Linked DNA regions of Homo sapiens. The protein of the gene in region 1 purifies or fractionates together with the protein of each later gene. This does not show direct contact. Each region holds a gene or a part of one and is shown in the gene's direction. Other genes may lie near its edges.

Region 1 (7,023 bases):
CAATATTCTTGTGCCCCAGCCTCCCGAGGAGCTAGGATTACAGGCGTGTGCCACCATGTCTGGCTAATTTTTTTTATTTTTAATAGAGATGGGGTTTTGCCATGTTGGCCAGGCTGGACAGGAAATCCTGGCCTCATGTGATCCACCTGCCTAGGTCTCACACAGTGCTGGGATTATAGGTATGAGCCAAAATTCAGTGTTTTTTTTGTTTTTTTGAGATGGAGTCTCACTCTGTCGCCCAGGCTAGAGTGCAGTGGCGCAATCTTGGCTCACTGCAAGCTCCGCCTCCTGAGTTCATGCCATTTTCCTGCCTCAGCCTCCCGAGTAGCTGGGACTACAGGCGTCCACCACCACACCTGGCTAAGTTTTTGTATTTTTAGTAGAGACGGGGTTTCACTGTGTTAGCCAGGATGGTCTCGATCTCCTGACCTCGTGATCTGCCTACCTCAGCCTCCCAAAGTGCTGGGATTACAGGCCTGAGCCACCGCGCCTGGCCCGGTGGGTTTTTTTTTTTAGTATAGCCAGAAATTTGTAAAAATGTCACCACTAACTCTAGAACATTCTTCTCACCCCAGAAAGAAACTTCTTATCTATTAGCAGTCACTCCTTATTCCTTCCTTTGCCAACCACTATCTACTTTCTTTTCCTGTCGATTGGCCTATTGTGGGCATTTCATGGAGTCATACGTGTGGCCTTTTGTGTCTGGCTTCTTTCACCTAGCATCATGTTTTAAGGGTTCATCCATGGTGTACCAGCATGTAGCAGTGCATTATTCCTTTATGGCTGAAAATATTCTATAGATACTATAATTCTAATAATATGGATATACCACATTTTATCTATCAGTTGATGGATTTTTGGTTTCTTTCTACTTTTTTTGCCTGTTATAAATAATGCCACTATGTACATTCATGTACAAATGTTTGTGTGAGCTGGGCACAGTGGTCCATGCCCGTAGTCTCAGCTACTTGGGAGTTGGAGACAGAAGAATCCCTTGAACCGAGGAGGCAGAGGTTGCAGTGAGCCAAGATCGCACCACTGCACTCCAGCCTGGGCGATACAGCGAGACTCTATCTCAAAAAAGAAAAAAACTATGTATTTAATTCGTTTGATATTTACTGGGAATTTACTAAAGATCAGGCACTGTACCAGACACTGGGGAATCCATAGTAAATGAGTTTGGTGTGTTGTCTTACCTGATAAAACTTACTAGTAGAAAAGACAGACATTAAATAGATATTAAATAGATATTACACAATTAATGTATTATTTTTGTGAAAAGTGTTAAAAGGAAAAGTACTGGTGTTACCAGAGGCTGTAACCGATTTGAAGAGGAGGAGAGGAAGGGAGCAAAGTGAACAATAAAGAACGTGGCAGTGGCCAGGTGTGGTGGCTCACGCCTGTAATCCCAGCACTTTGGGAGGCCAAGGTGGGCCGATCACCTGAGTTTGGGAGTTCGAAACCAGCCTGACTAACATGGAGAAACCCCATCTCTACTAAAAATACAAAATTAGCCGGGCATGGTGGCGCATGCCTGTAATCCCAGCTACTCAGGAGACTGAGGCAGGAGAATTGCTTGAACCTGGGAGGCAGAGGTTGCGGTGAGCCGAGATTGTGCCATTGCACTCCAGCCTGGGCAACAAGAGCGAAACTCTGTCTCAAAAACAAACAAACAGAAATTTGGCAAGGCAGCGTTGGTGGCAGCTGGTGCAGGACAATGAATGACGTGTTAAGGAATTTGGACATTCTCATAGAACAGAGGGAAGCCTCTGAGGATTCTTTGGCAGGAGAATGATGTGATCAGTTTGTGTTTAAAGTATCAGTTGAGTGTGGTATGAAGAGCAGATTGGTGGGGCAAGAATGAATGCAGGGAGGGCTTCCTTGAGGTTTGCTGTAGGAGTTCAGGTGAGAAAGGATGGCAGCCTGGGCTTGCTTAGATGTGGGTGGAGACAGGCAGACTGACACAAGAACACTGCTTAGGCAGAAAATAACAGGACTTGGAGACTGGATGTGAGGGATGAAGGAAGTGTTAGGAACTGCAGGCTGGGCATGGTGGCTCACGCCTCTAATGCCAGCACTTTGGGAGGGCAGGGCGGGAACGTTACCTCAGGTCAGGAGTTCGAGACCAGCCTGGCCAACGTGGCAAAACCCCGTCTCTGCTAAAAATACAAAAATTAGCTGGACGTGGTGGCGGGCACCTGTAGTCCCAGCTACTCAGGAGGCTGAGGCAGGAGAATGGCTTGAACCCGGGAGGTAGAGGTTGCATTGAGCTGAGATTGCGCCATTGCACTCCAGCCTGGGCAACAGAGCGAGACTCAGTCTCAAAAAAAAAAAAAAAAAAAAATGGGGAACTGCATTCCCCAGGCTGGATGCGGTGGCTCACACCTGTAATCCCGGCACTTTCGGAGGCCAAGGTGGGTGGATCACCGGAGGTCAGGAGTTCCACACCAGCCTGGCCCATCTCTACTAAAAATACAAAAATTAGCCAGGCATGTTGGTGCGCATCTGTAGTCCCAGCTACTCGGGAGGCTGAGGCAGGCAAATCGCTTGAACCCGTGAGGCAGAGGATGCAGTGAGACAAGATTGTGCCTTTGCATTCCAGCCTGGGCGACGAGCAAAATTCCGTCTCATGCACAAAAAAAAAGAACTGCATTCCTGGATTGAGCAACTGGTTGGCATTTACTGAGACAGGCAATACTGGAGTAGATACAGGTTTCCTGGCTGTGAGGGTGCTGATAATCACTATTTCAATGTGGACTTTTTTTTTTTTTTTAAGAGAGATGGGGTCTCACCCTGTCACGCAGGCTGGAGTGCAGTGGCATGGTCATAGCTCAAACCCCTGGGCTCAAGCAGTCCTCCTTATTCAGCTTCTTGAGGAGCTGGGATTATGAGCATTAGCCACCACGCCCAGCCAGTGTGAACATTTTGATCTTGTGATATCTGTAAGACGTCTAAGTGTTGTTGGATATACAGGTGTGAGCCTTGGGAGACATCTGAGCTAAAGATACAGATGTGGCTATCTTTGCCTGTAGGTGGGCTTTGAAACCACAGGTGTGGATGAGATTGTCAAGTGTGAGGGTGTGGACAGTAATTGACCCCTAAGGCTGGTAGACAGTGAGGAGCTGGAGAAGTAGGAGGAAAATCAGGCCAAGGGAAGTGGTCAGCTGTGTTAAAGTTTGCCGAAGGTAAAAGAAAGAATATGACCAATGCCAAAGAGATGTGTGTCCAAGGTCTAGGAGCATCTTTCACAGAGGAGGTGGTGGGGACCCCATTTCCCTGGGGATAAGGAGTAGGGCTTGTCAAGAGACGTTTCTCAGAAAGCAGTTTCTGGCCAGGCGTGGTGGCTCACACCTATAATCCCAGCACTTTGGGAGGCCAAGGTGGGCGGATCACCTGAGGTCAGGACAAGCCTGGCCACCATGGTGAAACCCCATCTCTACTAAAAAAATACAAAAATTAGCCAGGCGTGGTGGCGGGCGCCTGTAATCCCCGCTACTCTGGAGGCTGAAGCAGGAGAATGGCTTGAAAGCGGAAGGCAGAGGTTGCAGTGAGCTGAAATCATGCCACTGCACTCCAGCCTGGGCAACAGAGTGCGACTCCGTCTCAAAAAAAAAAGAAAAAGAAAGAAAACAGATTCTTGAGTGGGGATGGTGTCAGTGGTTTACACCTGGGTCTGATGGAAACATCTCTGTTCCAGGCCGAGACGCATCCAGAGCTTTCGTGACCGGGGACTGTTCTGAAGCAGGCCTCGTGGATGACGTATCCGACCTGTCAGCCGCTGAGATGCTGACACTTCACAATTGGCTTTCATTCTATGAGAAGAATTATGTGTGTGTTGGTAAGTCGTCCATAGGTCATACATTTCATTTGGTTGTCTGCAGTGTTTTTAGGGGGCTGAGATTTTTTAGGGATTGGGTTCAAGCTTAAAATCTGAAAAACAGCCATGGATTTGTTTTACTTTAAATTCTGGTCGTTAGAATAGGGATGAGCCGCCCAGAAGGAGATGGATGGGCACCTGCTTCCCCCACTCTTAGTCTTGGGAGAGGATTACTAAGCTGCTTGCTTTGGCCTCAGTTTCGCCATAGCCAGTGGTTGCTTGCACCATCCTTGAACAACCAGCTCCAGAAGGGCAGCTTCCCTGTCTCACTGTGTTCGATGCATCTGGCTTCAGCACACAGCCAGAAGGGCTTGAAGCCTGAATTTGTGTTTCGACAAATCCCCTTTTATTTGGTCCTCTAGGAGGAGACAAACTTCGTGAGTGAGCTGTCTCCCAGGTGGTAGTTATGCTAATCAAACCACTGTGTAGGTTACTGCACTTGCTACTTACTGATGCTACATAAGGGACTTGCTTCTCAAATGAGACAACACCAAACTGTGTCCTAAAGCAGTGTTAAAGACTCTAAACACTAGGCCCGGCGCAGTGGCTCACGACTGTAATACCAGCACTTTGGGAGGCTGAGGCGGTTGGATCACTTGAGGTCAGGAGTTCAAGACCAGCCTGGCCAACATGGTGAAACCCTGTCTCTACTAAAAAATACAAAAATTACCTGGGCGTGGTGGCACGCACCTGTACTCCCAGCTACTCAGGAGGCTGAGGCAGGAGAATCGCTTCAGCCCGGGAGATGGAGGTTGCAGTGACCTGAGATTGCGCTACTGCACTCCAGCCTCAACGAAAGACACTAAACACTAGATTGCTTCACAAGTACTGACAACTGGGATGGCCGTAGCCCTTTCTTCTATCTATCTGCAGCCCCCACGTCTCACTGGAGTCCTACTTGGACATGACTGACTTCCTGAGGAACACCAGTATCACTTCACCATCGAAACAGGTCTAACTTGGAAGAATTCTTTCCTTAATGCCTCTGAATTTCTGCTTCTGTCATCACTGCTTGAGTTACCTTTTCTGAGAACCTTGGCATTTTTATTAACACCTCAGCTCCCTCCACATCCAATCAATCATGGCTTTTTCATAATATCTAAAGTTTGTGTCCATCCATTGTGGGCCTCTGCAGCACGCCTTTCTTCATTTTCTCTCGTATGCCCAAGATCAGTCTTGAGACCATAACCCTGTCTACCATCGAAGGCACTGACCTCTACTCACCTGCGCTTCAGAGGGCTGGGTTCTTCCCTTTCCCAATGAAGTTGCCAAACCAAGGTTGAAACATTACTGGGTTAATAAAGAAAAGAAAACCCAATAGAAAAGAATAAGAGCCAGGAGTGGTCTCTCACACCTGTAATCCTAACACTTTGGGAGGCCGAGGTGGGCGGATCACCACCTGAGGTCAGGAGTTCAAGACCAGCCTGGCCAACATGGTGAAACCCTGTCTCTATTAAAATACAAAAATTAGCCGGGCATGATGGCAGGTGCCTGTAATCCCAGCTACTCAGGAGGCTGAGACGGGAGAATTGCTTAAACCTGGAAGACGGAGGTTGCAGTGAGCCAAGATCGCACCACTACACTCCAGCCTGGGTGGCTGAGTGAGACTCTGTCTCAAAAAAAAAGAAAAAAAAGAAAAAGAATAAGAATGGAGTCCAGACCGGTGGCTCATGCCTGTAATCCCAGCACTTTGGGAGGCTGAGGTGGTCGGATCAGTTGAGGTCAGGAGTTCAAGACCAGCCTGACCAACATGGCAAAACCATGTCTCTACTATAAATACAAAAAATTAGCTGGGTGTGGTGGGACACACCTGTAATCCCAGCTACTCAGGAGGCTGAAGCATGAGAATCACTTGAACCTGGAAGGCAGAGGTTGCGATAAGCCGAGATCACATCACTGCATTCCAGCCTGGGCAACGGAGTGAGACCCTGTCTCAAAAAAAAAAAAAAAAGAACAGAGTCCTGTAAATGGGCAAAGAATGCCAGGCCAAATACTTCATACTAAGATTTGGGAGCACACTGGAAGTGTTCGGATGCGTTTGGTGTGACAAGTGAGCTGGTCTTGTTTGAATGATGTATAATGTGTTGAGGATGGGGTGGGGCATGTGGCGGGAAATGCCTCAGAAGGATTTTAGTTGATGTCAGGATCTTATTGAATACCTACTACTCATAAGTTACGGGTTCCATCCTCAGGGGGACCAGGGATGAATTGAGTCCAGTTCCTGCCCCTGTTAGCTCATTCTGTAGGATAGGGGCCATGTTAGGCTCTTTCAGGTTACCAGAAACCCTCAGGATACATCAGTGGATGAAGGTTTATTGTAAGGGTACATACTGAAGTGAGGACAGCCAGGAAGCCATCTTGGCAGCCAACATGGCCAGGCCTCAAGGGAAAACAAGATGGCCTTGGTTATGCTGTGGATACAGGATTGGCTTGGAGATGCAGCCACTGGTGATCACCATTCTCATGACACAGATTCTAGAACTCTTCCTCTGTTGCCTCTGCTACTACTGTCCTCTCTTTGGGTCTCATGTCAGAAACTCACCAAAGACAGGCTTGTCACCATATAACACAGACACCCCAACCCCCGTAGTGGGAAATTCTGTGCCAGGCCAACTCATAGACTGCAGGCCTGTGACTCGGGCCCTGATTCCTTTCTTTATTCATCTAATAAGTATTTAAAATGAATGCTCTATGCTAAGCTGTTTTATTTATTTATATATTTTTTCAGATGGAGTCTTGCTTTGTCACCCAGGCTGGAGTGCAGTGGCACGACTGCAGCTCACTGCAACCTCCAACTTCTAGGTTCAAGCAGTTCTCCTGCCTCAGCCTCCTGGGTAGCTGGGATTACAGGCATGCACCACCACGCCCAGCAAATTTTTGTATTTTTAGTAGAGACAGGGTTTCACCATGTTGGCCTGGCTGGTCTCGAACCCCTGACCTCAAGTGATCTGCCCGCCTCAGCCTCCCAAAGTGCTGGGATTACAGGTGTGAGCCGCTGCGCCTGGCGCTAAGCTGTTCTGAGTACTGCGCCTCACTAGTAGAGAGAGCCATCATAGACAAGTAAACAGATTGAACAACTCCACATAGGACCATGCATCAAACTGTGATGTAATACGTTTGGGAGCTTTGGCTCCTTTAGAGCACAT
Region 2 (7,023 bases), on another chromosome or scaffold:
CTGTTTTTAAAAGAAAATCATGTCAAGTATTTCAGATGGGCAAAAAGGCATAAATACTACTACCCAGGCCCCTGCCCAGGCTCAAGAACCAAACGTTTCCAATCAGCTGATCCCCATCACAAGGTCAGGAGATGGAGACCATCCTGGCTAACACAGTGAAACCCCATCTCTACTAAAAATACAAAAAATTAGCTGGGTGAGGTGGCAGGCGCCTGTAGTCCCAGCTACTCGGGAGGCTGAGGCAGGAGAATGGCGTGAACCCCAGGGGGGCGGAGCCTGCAGTGAGCCGAGATCGTGCCACTGCACTCCAGCCTGGGCAACAGCGAGACTCTGTCTCAAAAAAAAAAGAAACTCCATCGCAAAAAAAAAAAAAAAATTGTTAGTCACGACATTAATAGTAGACACGCCTGTGATGCTTCCTATGCCTACCGCGCACTAAGCGCTTTCTGTCTATGAACTCAGTCAATCCTCACCACGATGCTATGAGATTTACTCTTTTACCCTTTGGGGCCAATGGGGAAACTGAGGCATGGCACCGTTACATAACAAGGCCACTCAGCTGGTGAAGCCCAGGTGTGAGCCCTAGCAGGACTCAGAACTCAGGGGATGGTTGGATGGGGGAGGTGAGGGGCCGTGGTCCACACTGCTCCCCCTGAAGGCTGCTCACTTTCCACCTGGTCCTGGTGCCCCTGCAGTCTGCCCCTGGTGAGGGAGGTGGGGTGGCAGGATGGGGTTTCTCTGAGAAAGCTTTCTGACCCCAAACTCCCACCGTTGCAAAACCTGGTGGTCTGGCCGTCCCAGAACAGCCTCTGCCTCACTGCCAGCTGGGAGTACCACTACCTGGGTGATCCTGGGCAGGGGCAGTGGTGCAGAGGGTGGGACCCTGACCCTCAACAGACCCAGACCAGCAGTGTAGGCCTGAGGAATGAGCACAGTCTGTGGGCTGTGCAGAGGATGGGACTCTGGCCCTGGAGTCCTGCACCTGCCTTCTGCTCCCTGCAGCAAGGGAATAGACCCCGGGTGGGGCTAAGGTGATGGGGTTTCCCTGCATCCTCCCAGCCTCAGCCACCCCACGCTGGCAGGACCCTCCTATCAGTCTCCCTTTGTGAAGCTGCCCTGCGCCATAGTCTCACACAACCTTCTGGATCTTCTAGACTTCCCGTGGCCATTAGTACCTCTCCTGCTTGCCTTCGAGTTAGGCAGGGCAACCAGCACTGTGCCCACTTGGCAGATCAACCAACAGACCCAGACCATCAGTGTGAGCCTGAGGAATGAGCACAGATTTCAGGATCAGGAAGGCCAGGCTGGAGTGCTGGCTCTGCAGCGTCACAGGTATGTGACCTTAGACAGGCACTGAGCCTCAGTTCCCTCATCTCTGAGTGGGCCTCCCTACTTCCCCAGGCTGTTGAGAGCAGCCTAGAACTGTTTGCACAGATCTTCCCTAGTGCGGGGCCTGGCATGCAGCGAGTGCTCGATGGAGACAGCTGCTGCCGTTAGCATTCTGATTGAGTGCTAATGAGCCCAGCACATTATGGCTGAGCCAGGCCTAGAACAAGGGGCTCTGGCTCTAGGCCCAGCACACTTACGCCAAACCCCACCCCGGACTCCCAGCGGGACAGGCCATGGGTTCCCAGCCTCCACCTTTCTGCCCCAGCAGGAGCTGAGTGGGGGTGCTGGCGTCATCATTCCCTCCATCATCTTAGGTGAGGGGCCCAGTTGGCATCGGGCCGGGAGCCCACGCGGCACAGCCTGCGCCCACAGCAGATGGGAAGTGGGGGTGCGGGAGTCGTGTTCTTCTGATTCAGACACTGGGACGGGGAGGGACTCACACACGATCCGGCGAGCCCACCTCCTCCATGGCCTTCCTGGCCGCTGCAGAGCCAGTGGCTCTGACAAAAGAACAGCTTGAGCGCACACCCCCTCAGCCCGCACGTTTTCTCCTCCAAACAGCGTCTGTTTAAATAGCCTCGACTCCCTGTTCTTGCTGGCAGATCTTCCTCCCTCTGTTCTTCCTGGCAAGTCTTCCTCCCTCTCTCCCTTTGCTGGAGAGAGGAGATGCTGGCTCCAGGGGTATCGGTTTGGCCCAGCCCCATTGCTATAGACAATTCAAAACGACTCCTGCCTTGGTTTCCCATCTGTGAAATGGGGATACGAAGAGTGCCAGCCTCAGCGAGCAGCTGCGAGGATTCATGAGTAAACACATGCCAAGTGCCTATGATGGGCCCGGTGCACAGCCTCACTCCCGCATGCCCCTCTGGCCTCAAGCTTGGCACAGAGCGGGTGGAGAACTGAGGACAGAACAGTACCTGGGACCAGGGACACCCTGCCCCAGCCCGCCCTTCCAGCCCTGAGATGAAATGCGCCCCTTGAGCTGATTGCCTCAGTCCAAGGCTTCCTGGAAGTCCAGCCATCTCGAATGCAGTGGGTGGCTGACCCTGTCACCCTGTGGGCCATCCAGTGTCACCTGAAGGCTCTGGAGGTAATGAGCGCCCCATCAGCTAATGTAGTCAAGCCCCACAGTTGGCATTATGCTTTTATAGTCCATGAGGGCCTGTCACTTGTCCTCCCATCCTTCCATCTGTCCTGGGAATGAACAAGAGGAAGTCTGTTTCACCCCACACACACTTTTTTTTGTCTCGCTCTGTTGCTCAGGCTGGAGTGCAGTGGTATGATCATGACTCACCGCAGCCTCAACCTCCTGGGCTTAAGCAATCCTCCTGCCTCAGCCACCCAAGTGGCTGGGGCCACAGGCATGCACCACCATGCCTGGCTAATCTTTGTATTTCTTGTAGAGATGGGGTTTCGCCATGTTGCCCAGGCTGGTCTCGAACTCCAGGGCTCAAGCGCCTGTCTTGGCCTCCCAAAGTGCTGGGATTACACACATGAGCCACCATGCCCAGCCTGTTCCCGTTTTAGAGGAGGGGAAACCAAGGCTTTGTGGTTAGTCTGCACCAGAGTCAGGGTTTATAGGCACCTTGACAGAAGGAGCCCTCGGGAAAGCAAAGATGAATGTAAGCGGGGAGTGCACTGTAAGGCTCCTCGCCCATCCCATGCCCACCTTCACCTGGCCTCCACCCCATCCTCGTGGGCCAAGTAGGCATCTGCGTGGCTGGGAGGCCGTGACCTCTTACACAAGAGGTGGGGGGGGTGGATAATGGTGGCCAGAGTCCCCCCTCTCCCGCTGCTTTCATGGGTCCCTTTCCAGAGCCAGCCTGGACGACCACAGTGACTTGTGTCTGTTGCCCCATCTTACAGCCTGGAATGGAGAGGTTGATCCTCAGCCCCTCCCACTGCCAGCAGAAGAGGGGGGTTGCTGAGTGTGAGTGGCACCAGACCCCCTGCCCTGTGAAGCAACCTCACCTTTCCCATGGGAGCCAAGGGACAGGTGGGACAGAGAGGGAATAGGGCTTCTGGAGAGGCCGCTTGGCAGATGCCAAGAGAGGCTGCGTGGCGAGTGATGCAGAGGGGGCGGGCGAGCCAGACTGCTAGGCTCAGATCCCAGCTCTGCTCCTGCTCCTGGTGTGATCTTAGTTAACTCACCCTAGTTTTCCTGCCCCTGAAATGGGGACACTGGCATGTTAAGTGGATTCAGAGAGGGAATGTTTGCAAGGTGTCTGCTAAGGCTCAGCCGGCAGCAAGAGCGTCCCATTCAGTCTTCCCACCTACCCCATGCACCCAAAACCATGCCCCCGGCACCCACTGTGGGCCAGGCTCTGGGCACTTCCCTTACACGCCATCATTTAATGCTGGCCAGCCCTGGAGGCTGAGCATTCCGTGTCTCCATCTTATAGAAGGGGAAAAATGATCTCGGAGTGTCAGCCCACCTGTCCCTACTCTCACGGGGCAGTGGCAGAGCCGAGGGCCGGTTCCTGCAACTCCTCAAAATGAGGTCACATTGCTGTCCACACTGGCAGCTCCCAAGTCTCGGGCACTGAGCATGGCAGTGGTCCTTTGCCCCCAGCACTCTGATGCAGGGGACGCACTTCTCCCCTTGTCCCATGGCTAGAAAACAGGCTCAGAGAAGTTAAGGAGGAGTGCACAGCTCAGAAGGAACACGCGGCCCTCAGTCACAGCAGCCACCAGCAGTGTCCAGTGTCACCCAGCAAATGACTGACAAGGCCATTGGCTGGGCCAGTGAGGCTGGACAGGGGATTCTATACTTGTCCCAGGCTGCAAGGCCATCCCCTCGCAGCTTAGGAAACTGAGGAAAGGTGGGGTTCTTGGTTTTCTGTTTTGCCTCCAGCCACAACTTCAGCATCTGGGGCAGTGCCCAGCACAATGGGGGTGCCCTCTGAATGTTTGCTCAGTGACTGAATCACAGAATGCAATGAGTTCGTGTCTGGGGCCTAAGCCTGGGAGCAAGGAACTGACTGAGCAAAAACTTCCCAGGCCCCTGGGGAGTTCGCAAGCATCAGGCCTGGTAGCGGGGACCATGGAGGAGGGGGAATCCAGGAGGATGGTGGAGGATGGTGAAGGTTTAATTTAGCTCCTAGCAGCTCATTGAATTATTAATCTCCTACTGACATTTCTGTGACATGTCTGCCACAGACTGTCCCCTTGAAGAGTCTGGACCTGCGGCCTCACCTGCGTTCCTCCACCCCAGAGGGGCCTTCTTCCAGCAGGAGAAGGGGAAGGAAACCCTCCCAGCTCCTGCCCCAGTTCTGCTGCCCTTGGGGTCTTAAGATAAGACAGGCATGTCATGGGGAACTCTGAACACTTAGACCTCATCCCGGGCTGGATGGGGGATGTCAGAGCCTACCCTGGAACACCCTGCCCTAGACAGCAATTGCAATAAGCAGGCTCTGTTTATTGATATTTAATCCTTAGTCCTCCCCACAACTCTCCAAATAGGTGCAGCTCTCTTTTGAGTAAACAAGTTCAGAGAAGTCAGGATATTTTCTCAGAGTCACATAGCAGATTGGTTACCGAGCTGGTTTTGAACCCTGGGCTGTCTGACTCCAAAGTATGTGATTTCAACCACCTGTCACCCTGGTATGGTCAAGCCACCGGGGCCCTGCTCCAGAAGTCCCTGTTTCACGCCCTGAGTGGGCCCAGTGGCCATACAGAGCCTTTTGCCAAGGACCGTTCTAGAGAAGCTTGCTGAGTGAGGGAATGAAGACTAAGATGGTCCGCCCCTTTACCAGCCTATCAGTGTCTAGCCTTGCTGCTATGAAGGACTAGGGTGGGGCGTTCAGCCCCAGCTGCACCCTGAAACCACCTGGGGGACCTTCACAGCACTCATGGCCACGCCCCACACCCCCACCACAGCCTGAGCTGTCCTTGAGGGCCGGGGCCAGCTCTGCCTGCTGCTCGCCGTCATGTGCCAGCACCAGGAACAGAGCCTGCCAGGGACCCAGGATGCATCTGTTGCCTGATGTTGGCCATTGTCATTCCCATTTTGCATACTGGGGAAGCTGAGGCTCCCCTGGGGTCACTGAGCAGGGGCGGTAGGCATCTGAGTGTTCCCAGCCTGTCCTTCCTCCCCTCAGTTGATTTCTGTTTCTCTGCCCTGTGAACAGCAGGAGCTTCCAGCCCGTGTGAACCTCTCAGCTGCCCCAGCCCCAGTCTCTGCTGTGCCCACCGGCCTACACTCCAAGATGGACCAGCTGGAGGGGCAGCTGCTGGCCCAGGTGCTGGCACTGGAGAAGGAGCGTGTGGCCCTCAGCCACAGCAGCCGCCGGCAGAGGCAGGAAGTGGAAAAGGAGTTGGACGTCCTGCAGGGTCGTGTGGCTGAGCTGGAGCACGGTGGGTCCTGGGTCCTGCAGAGGGCATTGGAGGGGTCCTCAGGATGACAGAGCCATTCAAAAAATATATCCATGCTCCCCGGAGGCTAACATCGACAGACTGGAGGGTGGGGAGGAGGCTGTGGAACACACAGTGGAGAGAATCATTGGGGGATATTGTTATCATTATCAACATTATTAACAGATCTCATTTTCTGGCACTTACTGTGTCCTGGGAGTGGGCTAAGTACTTGATACATCAGCTGATTTAATCCACAGTTTTCACAGATGAGAAGACCGAAGCTCAGAGAAGTCAAGTGACATGCTCAAGGTCACACAGACAAAAGTGGCGGGTCTGGACCTCAAACAAGGTCTGACTCCACAACCATACATTTAACCACCCACAAAATAGCATTTTCAATGACTTGGTCAGGATTTTGTTTAACACTTGTGCCTGGCACTGCCAAGGGGTCAAAGGAACATAATGGGCAGGGTACAGGTATAAGCATAAGGAGACCTGGCTCCTGGTTGCATATCTGTCTCTGGCTTGCTCTGTGACCTCAGAAGTTCACTTCCTTCCCCAGGCCTCAGTTTTCCTCATCTGAGAAATAGGGGTTTAGGACTCATGAGCTCTCAAAGACCTTTCAGCTTTCAATTCTTGTGAAGACCACCCTTAAGAGGCTTACAGACAAGTTGGGGAGAACAGGAGAAATGGTGAGCAGTTAGCTGGGACCAGCTTACATGGGGAACAGGGGTTCAGGAGAAGAAAATCCAGGCCCAGGCATGGTGGCTCATGCCTGTTATCCCGACACTTTGGGAGGTTGAGGTGGGCGGATCACCTGAGGTCAGGAGTTCAAGGCCAGCCTGCCCATCATGGCAAAACCCCATTTCTACTAAAAATGCAAAAATTAGCTGGGTGTGGTGGTGCATACCTGTAATCCCAGCTACTCGGGAGGCTGGGGCAGGAGAATTGCTTGAGCCTGGGAGGTGAAGGTCGCAGTGAGCTGGGCAACAGAGGGAAACTCCGTCTCAAAAAAAAAAAAAAAAAGAAAGAAAAAAAGAAAAAGAAAAGAAAAGAAAGAATATCCAAGCTGCTTCCTGGAGGAGGCAGGCCTCAAGCTACTTCTTGAAAACAGTGGTGAGGAGCAAATTTCAGAATGGAGGGGCCATCGCAGGGGCACAGCTGCAGGGGAGGGACAGGTCTGGTGGCTCAGGGCCAGCATCCTAGGTGGAGCACAGGAACAGGAGAAGCAACCTCCAGCCCTCCTCAGCCCTGCCTCTGGCCTGTCTACCCCGGGTC
Region 3 (7,023 bases), on another chromosome or scaffold:
TGTCTACAAACAAAAAAAGAAAAACAAAAACAAAAAACACGTGCCTGTAATTTCCATTATCTTCTAATGTTTACCTTCATCCCAATACATAGTAAGTTAGTGTTCTGCCACTCAACAAAGCCCCCCTAAGGCTCAGTGCTACCTGAGACACTGGTGGAAAGTTGAGAATGTCTAAGATTCTGTCCCTGTCCCCTGGAAACTGGAGCTTCCACTGGCCTTGCAGAAGGAAGACCCATCACTCGAATTCTGTCATGACAGTCTCTTGGAAGCTCTATCTTGGGAGTACTAGCGTTTAGGTGGATTCTGCTTGTTAATAAAATGGACTGTGGTGTTCTAGAAGAGGTGTTTTCTTTCTTCTCAGATATTTCCATATGAAATGCTCATGGTGACCAACAGAGGGCGAAACAAAATCCTCAGAGAGGTGGACAGAACCAGGCTGGAGGTAAAACAAAACCGAAAAATCCAGTCCCAACTGCAGATCCCTATGCACTCCCCCAACTCTCCCCTAAGCAATGTTTTATTTCTTCAGTGAAAACAAAAAAAAATTATAAAGATCACCCTCATGTCATAGGTAGAACTAAGAAATAACTTTGGAGAAAAAAAATATCCAGGTTTTCACTTAGATCAGCATAAAAATGCCTGGTAATATCCAGAAGAATGACCCAGGAGGTGGGCATGGTGGCTCACGCCCATAATCCCAACACTTTAGGAGGCCGAGGTAGGCAGATCACTTGAGGTCAGGAGTTCAAGACCAGCCTGGCCAACACGGTGAAACCCTGTCTCTACTAAAAATACAAAAATTCACGGGGCATGGTGGCAGGTGCCTGTAGTCCCAGCTACTTGGGAGGCTGAGGCAGGAGAATCGCTTGAATCCAGGAGGTGGAGGTTGCAATGAGCCAAGATCACACCACTGTACTCCAGCTTGGGCAACAGAGCCTGACTCCGTCTAAAAAAAAAAAAAAAAGAAAGAAAGAAAAAGAAAAAAAGAATGACCCAGGAGACACAGAATGATTTCAGTCATTTTCTTTGAAACTTGATGTTGCCATAATTATGGCTGGTAATTCAGAATGGGAGTCGCTATTTCTCTTGAGATAGTCTCAGATCCTTATCTTCCCCTGAGCTGGGGTTGAGTTCATGGGAGGCTGTGGGAGCGGCAAAGGCTCTCAGGAGAGACATTTATACTGATTTATACTGGACAAGTTTCTTTCTTGGCTGTTTCCACATTCCTTGTTGAAGGGTTATCTGGGTACATGTACCCAAGATCTCCTTAGACATGGAAGACTAATTTTTGTATTATAGTTTTCCATCCCAATGATTTTAATTAAGAAAAACCCTGGCTGCCAGTCTCCGAAAGAATGCTTACTTTTTCCTGACAAAAGGCAGTACCTTGGCGTAGAGGTACAGAGAATAAAGGCTGCAGGATCTTGGGGGAACTTTTCTAGGGGGGAATGACTGATGGGAAGTCTTCTCAGTAGAACAGACATCCACCTTACCCCCTATTCCTCAGCCAGGAGGAAGCCCTGGGGCTCCCCAGGGACCACGCTGGAGGTCATTTTCTTTGGCTTTCTATTGCGATAGTCCATTTTCCCTGCATCTTCTCAACGTTCCAAGGACCTGGGATGGAGTTGTCTCCAATGTAATAAATCACCTCTCTGTGTCCCATCACCAGTCAGTGTTATTATTATAATCCCCATTAATACTCTGCCAGCTCTTTTATCTGATGGGAAGGGCTCCTCACCTGGCCCAACCAGGTAAGGGATACTGATGTCACAAGCATTAAAGATGGGCTCCTCTCCCGTCCTCCTGCCTTGTTCTTCAGAATGACTCTGTATAAACTATAGAGCAACGCTCAAGGCCATTTGTGTGGCCATCAGGACTGACAGCAGCTCTTTTTTTTTTTTCTTCTTCCCAGCGCCACTTAGCCCCTGAAGTGTTTCGGGAAATCTTTGGAATGTCCATACAGGAGTTTGACAGGTTACCTCTTTGGAGACGCAACGACATGAAGAAAAAAGCAAAACTCTTCTAAGTCCCACTCGTGAATGGCAATTAGAGAAAGGACTGACAGTGGCGGTGCCCCATAGGATGTCATATTGAGGCCCAAACTTGATTGGAGAATTTGCAAACTACCGTCGCTCAGCAACACCAAAAAGAGAAAGTCTGGTTAAAACACCATGAGTCAAATGTCGGGCCAGCCAACAGTAACACTTGCCAAGAAGCATGGCGTAGAAATTTCTATGTTCCGAAACACAGAGTAGTGTCCACATGTGAGCTTTTCACATTACCTTATGTATACAACAGGAGCTGCGTTGTTTTCTTCTTTTTCTTTTCCTTTATCTGTTGTCCAACAACAGTGCTGACTGTCCGGATAAGAGCTGGCAAGTGCCCTTAGGATGCCGCATGGGAAAAATCGGTTATCATAATTTCAAAGTATAAATATATTTATTAAGTAGCGCTGCGGCTAAGAAGGAAGAGTGAGGGGTCTGTCCATGGGGTGGCAGTGATTTCACACCCGCCTTTCTTGAATGGCTTCGTGTTACTCAGCCGTGCCCTGGCAGGAATGGAACTCCATCAGGGAACAGGGCAGCTCTGTTTGAATGGGGTGAAAAACAGCAAAATTAATTCTTAGCAAGCTCCTTGTTCTCTACTGTTCACCGGGACCTGGCTGGCAAATGACTTAGCTATTAGTATATTTAAAAACTGTTCAAAAGCAAAAGAGAAGGAACAGGAATGAAAGGAAACCTTCCCTTAACTCTTTCTGCTTCCCATAGCAGGTCTGGTTCCTGCTCCCCGCCTAGGACAGGAGCTGTCTGGAGCTCCACCTTTGCAAAGAAAGGAAAAACACAAATTGCCCCCAGATTGGCCCAGTGGCATGCCATTAGGTGATTTTGCATAGGGGCCATATCATTCATGGCCAAAAAAAACCAAAAAGCAAAAAACAAAAACAAGTCCCATGTCCTACTGACTCTAGTTCTTCCAGTCGTTATCCTCTGCTGTCTCTCTGGCATCCTATGAATCAGATCAAGCCCATGCTGTTGTTGGTTTTTAAGGTTTCTTTCAATAATAGGCTAAGGAAAGACATGTTTTTCTCTTTTAAATCTCTGCAACTCCAAAGTAGACTCCTTCGAACGTATTTAATTTGGCCTTTTCAGCTTTCTTCTTGCCCAGCTCTGTCGAATTCATGGGTGTGTGTGCACATGTTGGTTTCACTCACCCAGAGTAATTTTGTGAGCATGCATGTGCTTTTTAATTTCTGCTTGAATGTTTGTCCTGCTGTGTTGCAGCTTCTAAAGACATTGTCACCGAGTGTGTGTGACTCAAAGATCAAGAGTGAGGCTAAACTGCGACCCCAACATCACTTCCTTCATGGAAAGGTGTTGGCGCTGATGTAGCTCATGGAAGGATCAGACTGGGAACCACAGAGGAAGGATGAGGTGGGATGTGGAGGTCAGAGCATCTCACGAGAGTCCCTCAGGCTCTGCAACACTAGATTCGAATATGAGCCTAGGGTTTCCCCAACACGTGCGTGCATATGAAACCACATCATGATTCCCGACGTGAGTTAGATGAGGGAGAGTTTGTGTAACTCCACACCCAGGAGGGTAAGCCACTTTATTATCATGCTTTGGGGCTGTGCTTAAGAATTTAAGCTCTGTTTTAAAGCCGAAGAAGAAAACATTTGAATTTACCTTCATATGCCACTAAGAACAAAAGCTCTGAAGTTCTTCCTGCTGGCACCAAATATTAGGATTACAAGCTGTCTCTCTGACACCAGTGGTAAAAAAGCAAGTAGAATAGTTTCTGAGTCTGTGTTGCAGCCTCTGACACGTGGCTCACCGCTGTCATTTGGGGGATGGAATGAACAGTCACTGTTCTATAGCATCCTCCTGTGCTCTTACCTAAGGAATCTAAATTGTCCTAGCCTTCCATTGCTATGCACTGAATGAGGACTACTCTCGTGTGTGTGTGTGTGTGTGTGTGTGTGTGTGTGTGTGTGTGTGTGTGTGTTGGATCTACTAACATGTTTAGCAAATGGCTCTGACAGGGTGGCCATGAGCAGATGAGACCAGCTCTTGCTTGGTTGGAAGCCACACTGCAGTTTGCAGTTTAGCCTTTGGTGTCTCAGTGGCTTCTTGCTTATTCCATGCTTTTTCTATCCCATCCTCTCTCTGTGCCCTCCTGCAATGGCAGCCTTGGCACAATGCCTGGGTGTCCTCATCCTTGCTTTACTCTGGAAAGTGTGGGGATGGAGAGGATGGTGCATTTCCAGTGCTTCCTTACCTGTCAATAACAATGGTGGCCACCTGGGTCCCAGCACTTGGCTGGTGGAGAGATTTTTTTCATTATGGAGCTAATAAAGGGTCCCTACGTTTTACATTGATTAATGAATTATCACCCAGACATGTGCAGATGAAATGTCAATATAAGAAAAATCAAGGTATTTGGGAAACATGGGCATAATCAGGTAGTTTTGCTAAAATTCCTCTTCCTTGGTCTACATAAAGAAGACATGGGTCTGTCATAGAATGGGGACATTAGACTGAAAACTGGGACAACCCCCTTCCTTATTTTATAGAGACTAGGAGTTAAGGGGCCTGCCTAAGATTGCAGTGATAAAGAACTGAACCCTAAATCAGCTCCCACTAATGAAACCCTGCTTTCCTTGTATCTTTTAAACTCAGTTCTGCATCCAACTTGAGAAGAAAAAAAGCTTCTTTCCATATCAAGTACCATATGAGTTCATTTAAACTGCACCTTGCAGAAATGCATTGCCAGAAAGCACCAGTAGCCTCCTATCTGCAAGCAGAGTAGTGCTCTGCTCTGGGGAGGGGTCATTGGAAACCATAATGCAGAGTGGGCCCCCTACTCCATTTCCCAGCAAAAGGCTCCAGCTGGAGGGATGGGTTGTGGGGCAACCTGGTTCCTGCTAACTGCCAGATTGAATGTGTGGGCTAGAATGCCTGCACATTTAGTTAAACTGGGCTCAGCATGCTTGTCCTCAAAATGTCCATCCTGGTCACAGCACACAAGATGGCTATTGGTCTGCTTTTACCCTACCCTGTACTATACATGAAAATTCCAGTTATTAACACACTCAAACTGGTGGAGCTTGTTCACCCTAGGAAGGGGATTGTATATATGGCAGGCTTCCCTGGTGCCGATGTAAAGGGCTACATTTGGGAACATTTGACTTCCTTGGGACTCTTAAGTGCATAATGATGGCATGAAGTAAAAGGGGCCTCAATGATGATAGGAAAATCAGTTCTTTTAAAATTTCTTCAAGAAAATCCAGGCTATCACATAGTCTTTCTGTGTGACTTATTAGGAGATAGGAAGAGCATTGGGAAACTTGCACAGCTAGCTATGCATCTACATTTTGGTTTGGGGTTAGTTATGAAATGTTCTTAATATGACGTGTTCAATAACTTCACATAAACTTCCTGTTCTCCAAAACCTCAAAGAGATAGAGTTAATGAGTTGTTGTTTTTTTTTAAATGGGGGTAGTTTTCTATCTGTCATGGGCTCTAGCATCTACTCCGCTACCCAATTCTGTCATCTCCAAGCTGAGTTTCCTCTTCTGAGGCAGAGGCTGGAGCAGTTCTTTTTCAGTTCTCATCCTCTCCATCCCAATCCAGTATATCAATCAACTCTAACTCGGAGACGTCTAGCTGGCAATGTTTCTAAAACTTTCACTGGATTTCTTTAGACATTGAAGCAAACATTTTTTTCTAAGAATTGCTTCTCAGATGATGATATCAAATGTATATGCTTTTGCAAGTTTGAAAAGTTCAAATTAACCACTTTTGACTAGGTAAGTCTTTCTAAAAACCATTTAAAGCTAACTGGGTCTTAGCATCCTCCTGTGTATGGAAGAGACAGGTGACCGCTCCAGGTTGGGTGCTCACAGAACCCTTTTCCTGACTCTCATGGAAGATGGTGGAAGGAAAATAGACTGTCTCATCAACCCTCCTGTGTCCTCTGAAGCAATCTCAGTTTTTATTAACCACCTCTTCTGTGTTTCTGGTAGCTATTTAACCTGTATTTAATCTGTACTTCCTATGCCAGCCTCAATTTTATTTGATTTTTACAATTATTCTCTTCTAACCAATGAAGTGTTTGTCAGTATGCCCCAAAGCTTGCTCTTTTGTGCTCCCTTTTGAATAACTTTCTATCCAGAAAAAGAGATTATTTGGGACTTGAGATTTGCAGTGATACCAACTTATAGCAATGATGTACTTTAAGGGAACTACCCAACTATGTTGTGATAGAAGAAAGAGAAACCTTCACTTTGGCATTTTTTTTTAATCACTGTTTATTTTTCTGTTTGCGGCCCAGGAAGCAGTGGGAGGTGGTGGCAGATATGCTTTGCATATGGATTGTTATGTTTTTATTTGGGCAAGTTTAATCATGGAAAACTCAAAAAGAAGGGGGGAAATGGTCAGTTTAAGCCAAAAGAAACTTTCTAAACAATGTATAGGTACACAGCAAAATTAAACAAATCCAACAATTTCTGAAGCTTAGTGTAATTGAGTGGTGGTTGTTATTCAATAAAATTATTCCCAAAAGTGTTTCTCCTAAGAGTGCAGTTCCCATGAGTCACTTCCTGAACCCATTGACCAAAGGTGGACAGAGACAATCCTGTAGACCTTGACATTCAGAAAGATGTGAGCTGCTTACTGATCATATATGCATACGTTTCTTTACAGCAGAGGAAACCATTGTCCACAAAACTGATGTTCTTTTGGGGTTTTATGTACAGACTTGTCCAATCATGTGTGTGGTTCCTGCGAGTTGCTGATGACTCCGCATTGAAGCTCTCTGAGTTCTTTGATTTTAAGTTGGGTTTATGGAATTTTTTCAAATGTTGGAAGGTGTGTGGTTCTTCCTGCCCTCCCTCCCCTTTTGGAAATATGAAAGCAAATGTTTAGAAGAATTCCTTTTGAAAAGCTGTGTCGTGTTCCCTGTGAAACTGAGCAGGTGTGTGTTGGCGCGCTAAGTGCCACATGCTTGTGTGTAGAGGAGGAG
Region 4 (7,959 bases), on another chromosome or scaffold:
CTATCTAGCTGCCATATGACATTTTAACCTTTCTCAAACTGTTTCCTAGTCTTCAAAATTCTATAAAATATCTTCAAACTCTCACTTTCAAAGATTCATACAAGCTACCTGTGTGCCTGAATCATACAGAGATATTGAGCCACATGTCTTTATCAGAAATAGGCCAATTTCACCACTTGTAAGTTATGTGAAAGTGGGGCACTTTCTTGGTGTTTCCTAATATAGAGAAATTGAGACTACATTCATAGAAGATTTTCTCAAAGCAAACTAAGTTGATGATGTTCCTTCCTTCAGCCTCCTCCCACTCCCAGTCTATTATCCCTTACTTTTAAAAACTGAGGTAAGACATTATCCCTGGTATATCCGGTGACTCGTTCTATTGCTTGAAATCAGAGGATGCCACCAAAAGCCTTTTTTGGTTTGTTGAAATCAGTTGAGTAATATGAACAACCAATTCCCCTAAATCACGGCTCTCTAGCTAAATGTGATAATATACTTGTACAGGGACACCACTTCCTGAAACTCAGTGTCTCATCTCACATGCTCCCAAAATTTAGCCAGAAATATGTTATTCAAGAAGAACACAGATGCACTGAAGCAAGAACATTTTGCTTTATCTGAGGGGCTTATATCTATTTGGGTCCCGTAGCAACACAAATTCAGAATCACTGAGATGTTAAATATTACAAATTTTTTAGTTGGGTCCAGGCACATAGTCTGGTGATATATCCCAAGTGTAGGTGTGAAACAGTTCACTTTGACTGAATCCTCTGATTAAAGCTCAATAATACCATGCTTTATCTTTTTTTTAAAAAAAAAAAAACCCACAAAGTAGTATATCTTTATCTTGCTGAGACACCAGTATATTTTCCTGAAGTTTTCATCCCTTGTCTTTCCTCTTGGGAGGCTGGCCTGTTCTTTCTTAAGTATTCTTGCCTTATTTAACTCTAAAGAATATTGCAGAAAGGGAAGAATTTTTTTCAACTTTGTTTTTAAAGGGACTTACATAATACAGGTCTAAATTCAGTGGAGAAAAGGGGAAGAAAAGGACAATTATCATCTATTGTGCACTGGCTATATGCCAAACATGTTCACTTACATTATCTCACTCAAGCCTAACAATATTTTGTAGTAAATTTAGCTTTGATTTTAGAGATGAGAAAACTGAGGCTGGGAGAGGTTAAATCATTCTCTCAAGGTAAAGTGGCAAGTCATAAAACTGGGACTGAAACTAAAGCTGTCTGACTCCAAAGCTCAAGCTCTTTCCACACTACCATGCAGTTCAATCTAGTGGGGAAAAAAATCCACTCTTGAAAGCGTCTTAGCATTTTAAGCATAAATGTGTGTTAGTAGGGATCCTCTGGAGCTTCCAAATTCTATTTTATCTGCACTGAACTTTACACACACACACACACACACACACACACACACGTCTATTTCCCCCTTCCAATTGAAATTCAGCACCGAGGACAGTTCCCGAATCATGTTTGCAGGAAGCTGTCCTTGGATTCTGTTAGAGCTCACACTCTCATTCTTGACTTCCCAAGTGGCACTGAGAAAGAGAGAAGGAAATGTAAGAAAGTATGAGATGGGATCCTCTCACACCATGGTGGAAATTAGCACATTTCCCAGAAGACCAAGATAAAAATGCATGTGAGAAGAACAAGAGAACCAAACAGATGGGGCAATAAAATGGAGGCGGAATGAGCTCATCAGGATTCCCAGCACACGGTTTAAGTCCATACTGGGCTCACAGCTGACCTGGGACCAGCCGACATAGTGAATGAGTGGGTGGTTACTATGCTGCAGCATCAGTTACACTAAGAGATTAGGTGGAGCTGATTCACTGCTGCAGATCTGCACGACTTTTCAAGTGGAGGAAAATCTGTGGGCCCTGGTCTCTGCCACTCACATAACCATCCTCATGGGTAGCATGAGTCATACATGCAGGATCTTTCAGGTAGACAAAGTTGTTGTGCTGTGAGTAAACCCAGTATGAGCTTTCGTGTTGTCGAAAGCAGGTTTTAACCACAACTACGGCGTCTCCGTGTATGAAGGTTTACCTGCTGTACTACAAAACGACCCTGCCTTTCCACATTCACCTTTGGCTACAGGTGGTTAATAACACACACAGAAAAAACAAGTTTCTGAAACGTTCCTCACACCAACAGTGATTCCTTCTTTTTCAAACTATCATGCTCTTGAGTACAGCCAAAGCACCTTTAGACAGTTGCGTCTAATCCCCTTATCTTTTTAAAATTATTATTATTATTTTGAGATGGAGTCACGCTCTGTCACCAGGCTGGAGTGCAGTGGCATGATCTTGGCTCACTGCAACCTCTGCCTCCTGGGTTCAAGCGATTCTCCTGCCTCAGCCTCCCAAGTAGCTGGGACTACAGGCGGGCGCCACCACACCCAGCTAAATTTTGTATTTTTAGTAGAGACGGGGTTTCACCATGTTGGCCAGGATGGTCTCGATCTCTTGACCTTGTGATCTGCCTGCCTCGGGCTCCCAAAGTGCTGGGATTACAGGTGTGAACCACCGTGCCCAACCCCCGCCCCTCCCTTATCTTATATGCAAGAAAACTGAAGTCCAGAGGAGAAATGACTTGCCCCAAACCACTTAGCTAGTGACAGAGTTAGAATTAGCACTAGATCCCTCATTCCTAAGCCAGCAGGCTTTTCATTGCACCAGGAAGATAAAATAAAACTGTAAATAGCATGTACTCTGTTAACTAAGCCTCTAATTATACTGCCTCCAAAGAAAATAACATTTCAAATGTCTGGGTCTTTCCATTTGAGCTTTGGCAATTTCACTGATCACTTCTCATACTGGAATCTCTTTTAAGACGTTTAGGAGTAATTATATTGGGATATATGCTATTTTTACTCTTGTACACTGCTTTCTTTGTTCAGGAGGAAATTAGAATTCTGGAAAGATACTTGATTTTGTTTAATTATTAAAGGAACAAGCTTCTACTTCAAGTAGTTGCAAATATGAATGTATCAGTCTGTGTGTCAAGAAAGGATATATGGAACAATACAGGAACGATAATACTCTATTGTCACATCCAATTAAGGGCCACCTAGGTCTACAAGTAAAGAGGAACATCAAAGCTATGAGTGAAAATGGAAAAGTCACATCGTTATCTGAATAATTTTGAAAACGTCTGGATTTGGTGCCTTATGAATCATCTGAAATGTAACAAGGCATAAAGTGCTTTGCAACCCTGTTGCCTTCATTATTGTAATTTGTGCATATGTAGGTTTATTTGAACTTTTTCGAGTTTTCATCCAGCTGAAAAAGGATGTAGGAAGAATGAGTCCAGTCAAGGTCATACTTAACAAGGTGAAACTGACACCTCCTGGGGATGCAGGCTAACAGAAACATGAGCCCATTACTCACCCCAAATCTCCCATCCATACCTTTTTCTGCTAATGAATATTCTTACCTGAACCATCATTACTTCCATTGTCCTCTGCTTTGGATACCTTGCAGACCAGGTTCCTGTCTCTCATTTTTATCCACGAAGAGATTTTCAAGAATAGAACTTTTCTTATAATTTAGCAATAATGTCCTTGAAAACCCCACAACTATTTACATAATAGAAGCTATTGTTTGAAGTGCAAAGCAGGTCAGAATTTGGTTTCTAGAGATTAATCACTGCAGTCTAGTTTATATTATCATAATAATTTCATTTATTTTGGTACAATTTGCTTTCAGAATCAACCTCGGCTTCTGCGCACAAGTGACAAATCCATTTGTTTGTGGTATAATGGATAACGTGATTAATGACCTTGCAACAGGATTTCTTAAAAACATAGAGAGGAAAAGAAATAAAGATTTCCATTTATAAATGTGCAGTAAACCAGCTCAGTCTGTAGCTGTGCACCAAAATCCCTCTGAACTTGTTTTAAGCCACAGATTTGGAGAGATTCTGAAACAAATTTGCTCCTGACTTTTGGGGGTTTCTGCTCATATCTGCTGTCTCCAAGAAGCTGAGGGCAGTGGCCTCACTTCGAGGAAGTGGTGACACTGCGGGCCCTCCTGGTTACAAGGACCGGGCACTGTTGGACCACGTGGCTCCATCATGATGACTCCAGTTAGATGTCACCCCGCCCCTGAGCTCAGGTCTTGCTGAATAAGGTCACCGCCCAGGGGGCAGTCGATGAACACGCGCGCGAGGGCTCTGCGAGTGGCCTCGTGACTTTGTCCCTAACTCCGGGTGTCCCCTCCTTCCCATCAGCGTCCGGCGCCTGGTCCTGGTCCCGGTCCCCGAGGCCCCCGGGATTCTTCCCGAGCGTTTTCCGAGTTGGCGCGGGGGGTGGAGGCGGGGCCATGGAGCGCGTCCCGGGGACCGTTGCATCCGGAGGCGGCCGTCGTGCGGCTCCTTCCCGCCTCGAGAGTGAGGTGGCCGGGCCTTGACGAGAAGGCCCACGCCTGCCGCGGGGGTGGCTCGCGATGGCAGTCGGGGTTCGAGTCCCGCCTGGGGGGCTGCTCCTGCTGGAGAAAACGCCTCCCTGAGGGCGGCGGCAAACGCGCAGCGAGGCCCCGTGCCGCGCCAGAAGCCACCCTGAGAAAGGGGCACCGGGACACCGAGGGGTTCCCACTTTCTCCTCAGCCTGTGACGCCCGCGTCCTCGGGTGGGTTCGAGGGGCGCCTGGGCACGGCCAGCCGAGGCTCTCGAGAGCCCCAGTGTCGTTTTCCACCTCAGGCCTCCTTTCCTGAGGCAGAGCCCGGGACCTCGCGCTCTCGCCTCAGGCTCCGGCCCACGCTCCCGCCCGGCCGCCAGGCGCGCAACGGAAAGCGCCCCCGCCCCGCCCCGCTCCGCCCACTGCGTGACGCGCACCCGGCCGAGCCAATCAGAGCTCGTGGCGCGCGCCCCACACGCCGGCCCCCTCCGCCCCTCAGCTTAAGAAAGGGCGCGCGGACCCGGCAGGCCAGAGTGCCGAGCAGCGCGGTGGGTGCGGCTGTGAGACGGCAGGAGACTTCTGCCCCGCGGTGCACGCGACCCTCGAGACGACAGCGCGGCTACTGCCAGCAGCGAAGGCGCCTCCCGCGGAGCGCCCCGACGGCGCCCGCTCGCCCATGCCGAGCTGAGCGCGGCAGCGGCGGCGGGATGCTGGCGCTGCTGGCCGCCAGCGTGGCGCTCGCCGTGGCCGCTGGGGCCCAGGACAGCCCGGCGCCCGGTAGCCGCTTCGTGTGCACGGCACTGCCCCCAGAGGCGGTGCACGCCGGCTGCCCGCTGCCCGCGATGCCCATGCAGGGCGGCGCGCAGAGTCCCGAGGAGGAGCTGAGGGCCGCGGTGCTGCAGCTGCGCGAGACCGTCGTGCAGCAGAAGGAGACGCTGGGCGCGCAGCGCGAGGCCATCCGCGAGCTCACGGGCAAGCTAGCGCGCTGCGAGGGGCTGGCGGGCGGCAAGGCGCGCGGCGCGGGGGCCACGGGCAAGGACACTATGGGCGACCTGCCGCGGGACCCCGGCCACGTCGTGGAGCAGCTCAGCCGCTCGCTGCAGACCCTCAAGGACCGCCTGGAGAGCCTCGAGGTAGCGGCCCGCGGGGAGCGCGGGGGACCTGGAATGGGGACGCTCCCGAGTCGGGGGCGGAAGACTCGGGAGGATGGGGAAAGGGGGCCTGGCCCTGGGGAGGGTGTGATCGTCCGTGGGGGTGAGCTGGACTTGAGGGTGAAAGGCGGGGATCTAGATCCTGCTCGGGAACTCCCCTGCGTGGTATCCCTTCCCACACCGCTGCTCTTGCTGGAAGGAAACGTTTAAATTCCACCCCCGCGCGTCGGGACTGCCAGCGGGATCCGCCGAGCACTTCCCGAGGTCCGGGCTAGCGAACCCAGACGGCCAAGCCGCGGGCGCCAAATACCCGGGGACGCGGTAGCCTCTATCCTCTTGCAAATCTCCAAATCTCCGCGAGCCGGGATGCGCTCCCGCAGGCCGTGCGGGTTGCTGCGAGGCTGCCGCGGGAGGTCAGCTGCCCCGGGCATGTGGTGTTTCTTTCTTTAAATCAGGTCAGGCTGAGCTAGAGGGGGCGGAAGTCTGGGGGCGGAGGTCGCAGGGAGGCGAGCGCAGGGGGTCACCGGCGACCCCAGAGCGCGCATTAGAGGGGCAACCTCTGGTTAACTTCAAAGACTCCCGTGTCTGCAAGTTGGACCATTTTAAGGTGCTCTTCCGGATTGCTTCAGGGGAAGGGACCTCATTCCCTTCTCTCTCTCTCTCTCCCCCCCTCCCCCCCTCCCCCTCCGTCCCCCCCCCCCGCCCCCCGCTCCCGCCTCCGTCTCATCTCTATCTCTGAAAATGCGTGCAGTTTGGAACTTTGAGAGAAAAATCTTCAATTATTTTTCATCTTTAGGCTCCACCCTTTTTAAGAAGTGTGGACACTGCTGTTAATAGCCTTTGTGAAAATACTTCTCAGCAAAACTAGGTTTAAATTACAGGTGGTAATTATTGCAAAAATGACTCTAGGGTTTCTTTTGGCGTGAGGGCTGAATACAGTATTTCCAGCATCTGTATATCCCCTGATTCATTGTGATTGCTAACAGCTAACATTTCTGGAGCACTAAATATGAGTCAGGCACATCATTTAATTTTTTAATCCTTGGAACAATGAATGGCATGAGGCAGGTCCCATTATGTGCATTTCACAATTTGGAACACTTTGTGGAGAAAGGTAAATAGCTTGCCATGAACTCATGGGTAGGCAGCCTGCCACAGCCTCCAGAACCACATGATGGTAGGGGAGAAAGAGAAATAGGAAGTGAGGATTTAGAAACAGCATTAAAAACAAAGATTGCTGGAGTTCAGAATAGCAACGTTTTAGATCTGTCATTTTCCAGAAACATCTCTGCATGCATAGTTATTTACCTTGGTGCCAGACCGGAACTTGGGGGCTGTTTTCATTTCTAGGTGAAAGCTCCTTGGCTTTGTGTAACCATCGATTTACTCTTAAAAAAGAAAAAAAATCCTGGAGCTGAGTTTTGGTCTCTACCCAACATAGAATTCTAGGCGTTGGTTAGAATATTGACTTTTTAGTAAGAGGAGAAAAACGGCTTTTTGAGAAGGGAAAATTAGATTCACAAGTTTCAAATATTGCAGCAAAGTAATTCTTATCTGACTTTGAAATCTTTTCCATACCAAAAAAGCATCAGTGAGATGCTCCCCTGCCTGCCAGTGGCAAGATTCAGGGCTTGCGTTTTGGAAGCTTCTCCCTGTGTGGTCGGGCCATCACAGCCACATTTCACAATTTCTTTTTAACTCTTTCTGTGCCCCTCCCTCCTCCCCGGTGGCTGAAAGCACCAGCTCAGAGCAAACGTGTCCAATGCTGGGCTGCCCGGCGACTTCCGCGAGGTGCTCCAGCAGCGGCTGGGGGAGCTGGAGAGGCAGCTTCTGCGCAAGGTGGCAGAGCTGGAGGACGAGAAGTCCCTGCTGCACAATGAGACCTCGGCTCACCGGCAGAAGACCGAGAGCACCCTGAACGCGCTGCTGCAGAGGGTCACCGAGCTGGAGCGAGGTGTGTGCCTGGCCTGTTTCTCTGTCTGGCAGTGGCCTGATTTTCACCACTTGTGGTCAGACATGCGATTCTGGTTGATGGACAGCAGGGATTGTGACACCACATGGGCCTGGTTCCCGAGTGTGTGAGCAAATAATAAAGGCGACTGAACAAGGTCATCTCAGGAATGAGCTGCCAGCCCCACTGGCATTATCCAGGGAAAAGTGAAAGTGTCCAGGACCAGCTTCGATAAGCAACCACACGGGCGTTTCAGTCCTTTGTTAACTAGTCCTGGCAGCGGATTCTGTGTATCTTTCTCTTCTCTGCTCACACTGTGGTGAGTAAGTTTCTCCCACAGGAGACAGAGTGGGAGGGATCAGGGGATAATTCAGATTGCGTCATCAACCCCCAAACCACTGGGTGGCTTGGGTTTGAAGTTGTAGGTTTGCCCGTAGTGGGTGT

Evidence for each region.
Region 2: the proteins of CYB5D2 (region 1) and NPTXR purify together in Homo sapiens (affinity purification with mass spectrometry; 2 studies listed by BioGRID and IntAct, with this or other methods). This does not show direct contact.
Region 3: the proteins of CYB5D2 (region 1) and ABLIM1 purify together in Homo sapiens (co-immunoprecipitation; 3 studies listed by BioGRID and IntAct, with this or other methods). This does not show direct contact.
Region 4: the proteins of CYB5D2 (region 1) and NPTX2 purify together in Homo sapiens (affinity purification with mass spectrometry; 2 studies listed by BioGRID and IntAct, with this or other methods). This does not show direct contact.

Annotation. Positions count from the first base shown.
Region 1 is NC_000017.11:4,146,194-4,153,216, forward strand, and holds part of CYB5D2 (neuferricin isoform 1 precursor), read left to right. Parts: intron 1-3,697; coding exon 3,698-3,838; intron 3,839-7,023. UniProt on the Homo sapiens protein: Heme-binding protein which promotes neuronal but not astrocyte differentiation.
Region 2 is NC_000022.11:38,827,009-38,834,031, reverse strand, and holds part of NPTXR (neuronal pentraxin receptor precursor), read left to right. Parts: intron 1-5,519; coding exon 5,520-5,745; intron 5,746-7,023. UniProt on the Homo sapiens protein: May be involved in mediating uptake of synaptic material during synapse remodeling or in mediating the synaptic clustering of AMPA glutamate receptors at a subset of excitatory synapses.
Region 3 is NC_000010.11:114,431,263-114,438,285, reverse strand, and holds part of ABLIM1 (actin-binding LIM protein 1), read left to right. Parts: intron 1-361; coding exon 362-442; intron 443-1,912; coding exon 1,913-2,026; 3' UTR 2,027-7,023. UniProt on the Homo sapiens protein: May act as scaffold protein. May play a role in the development of the retina. Has been suggested to play a role in axon guidance.
Region 4 is NC_000007.14:98,612,342-98,620,300, forward strand, and holds the start of NPTX2 (neuronal pentraxin-2 precursor), read left to right. Parts: upstream 1-4,943; 5' UTR 4,944-5,120; coding exon 5,121-5,546; intron 5,547-7,301; coding exon 7,302-7,518; intron 7,519-7,959. UniProt on the Homo sapiens protein: Likely to play role in the modification of cellular properties that underlie long-term plasticity. Binds to agar matrix in a calcium-dependent manner.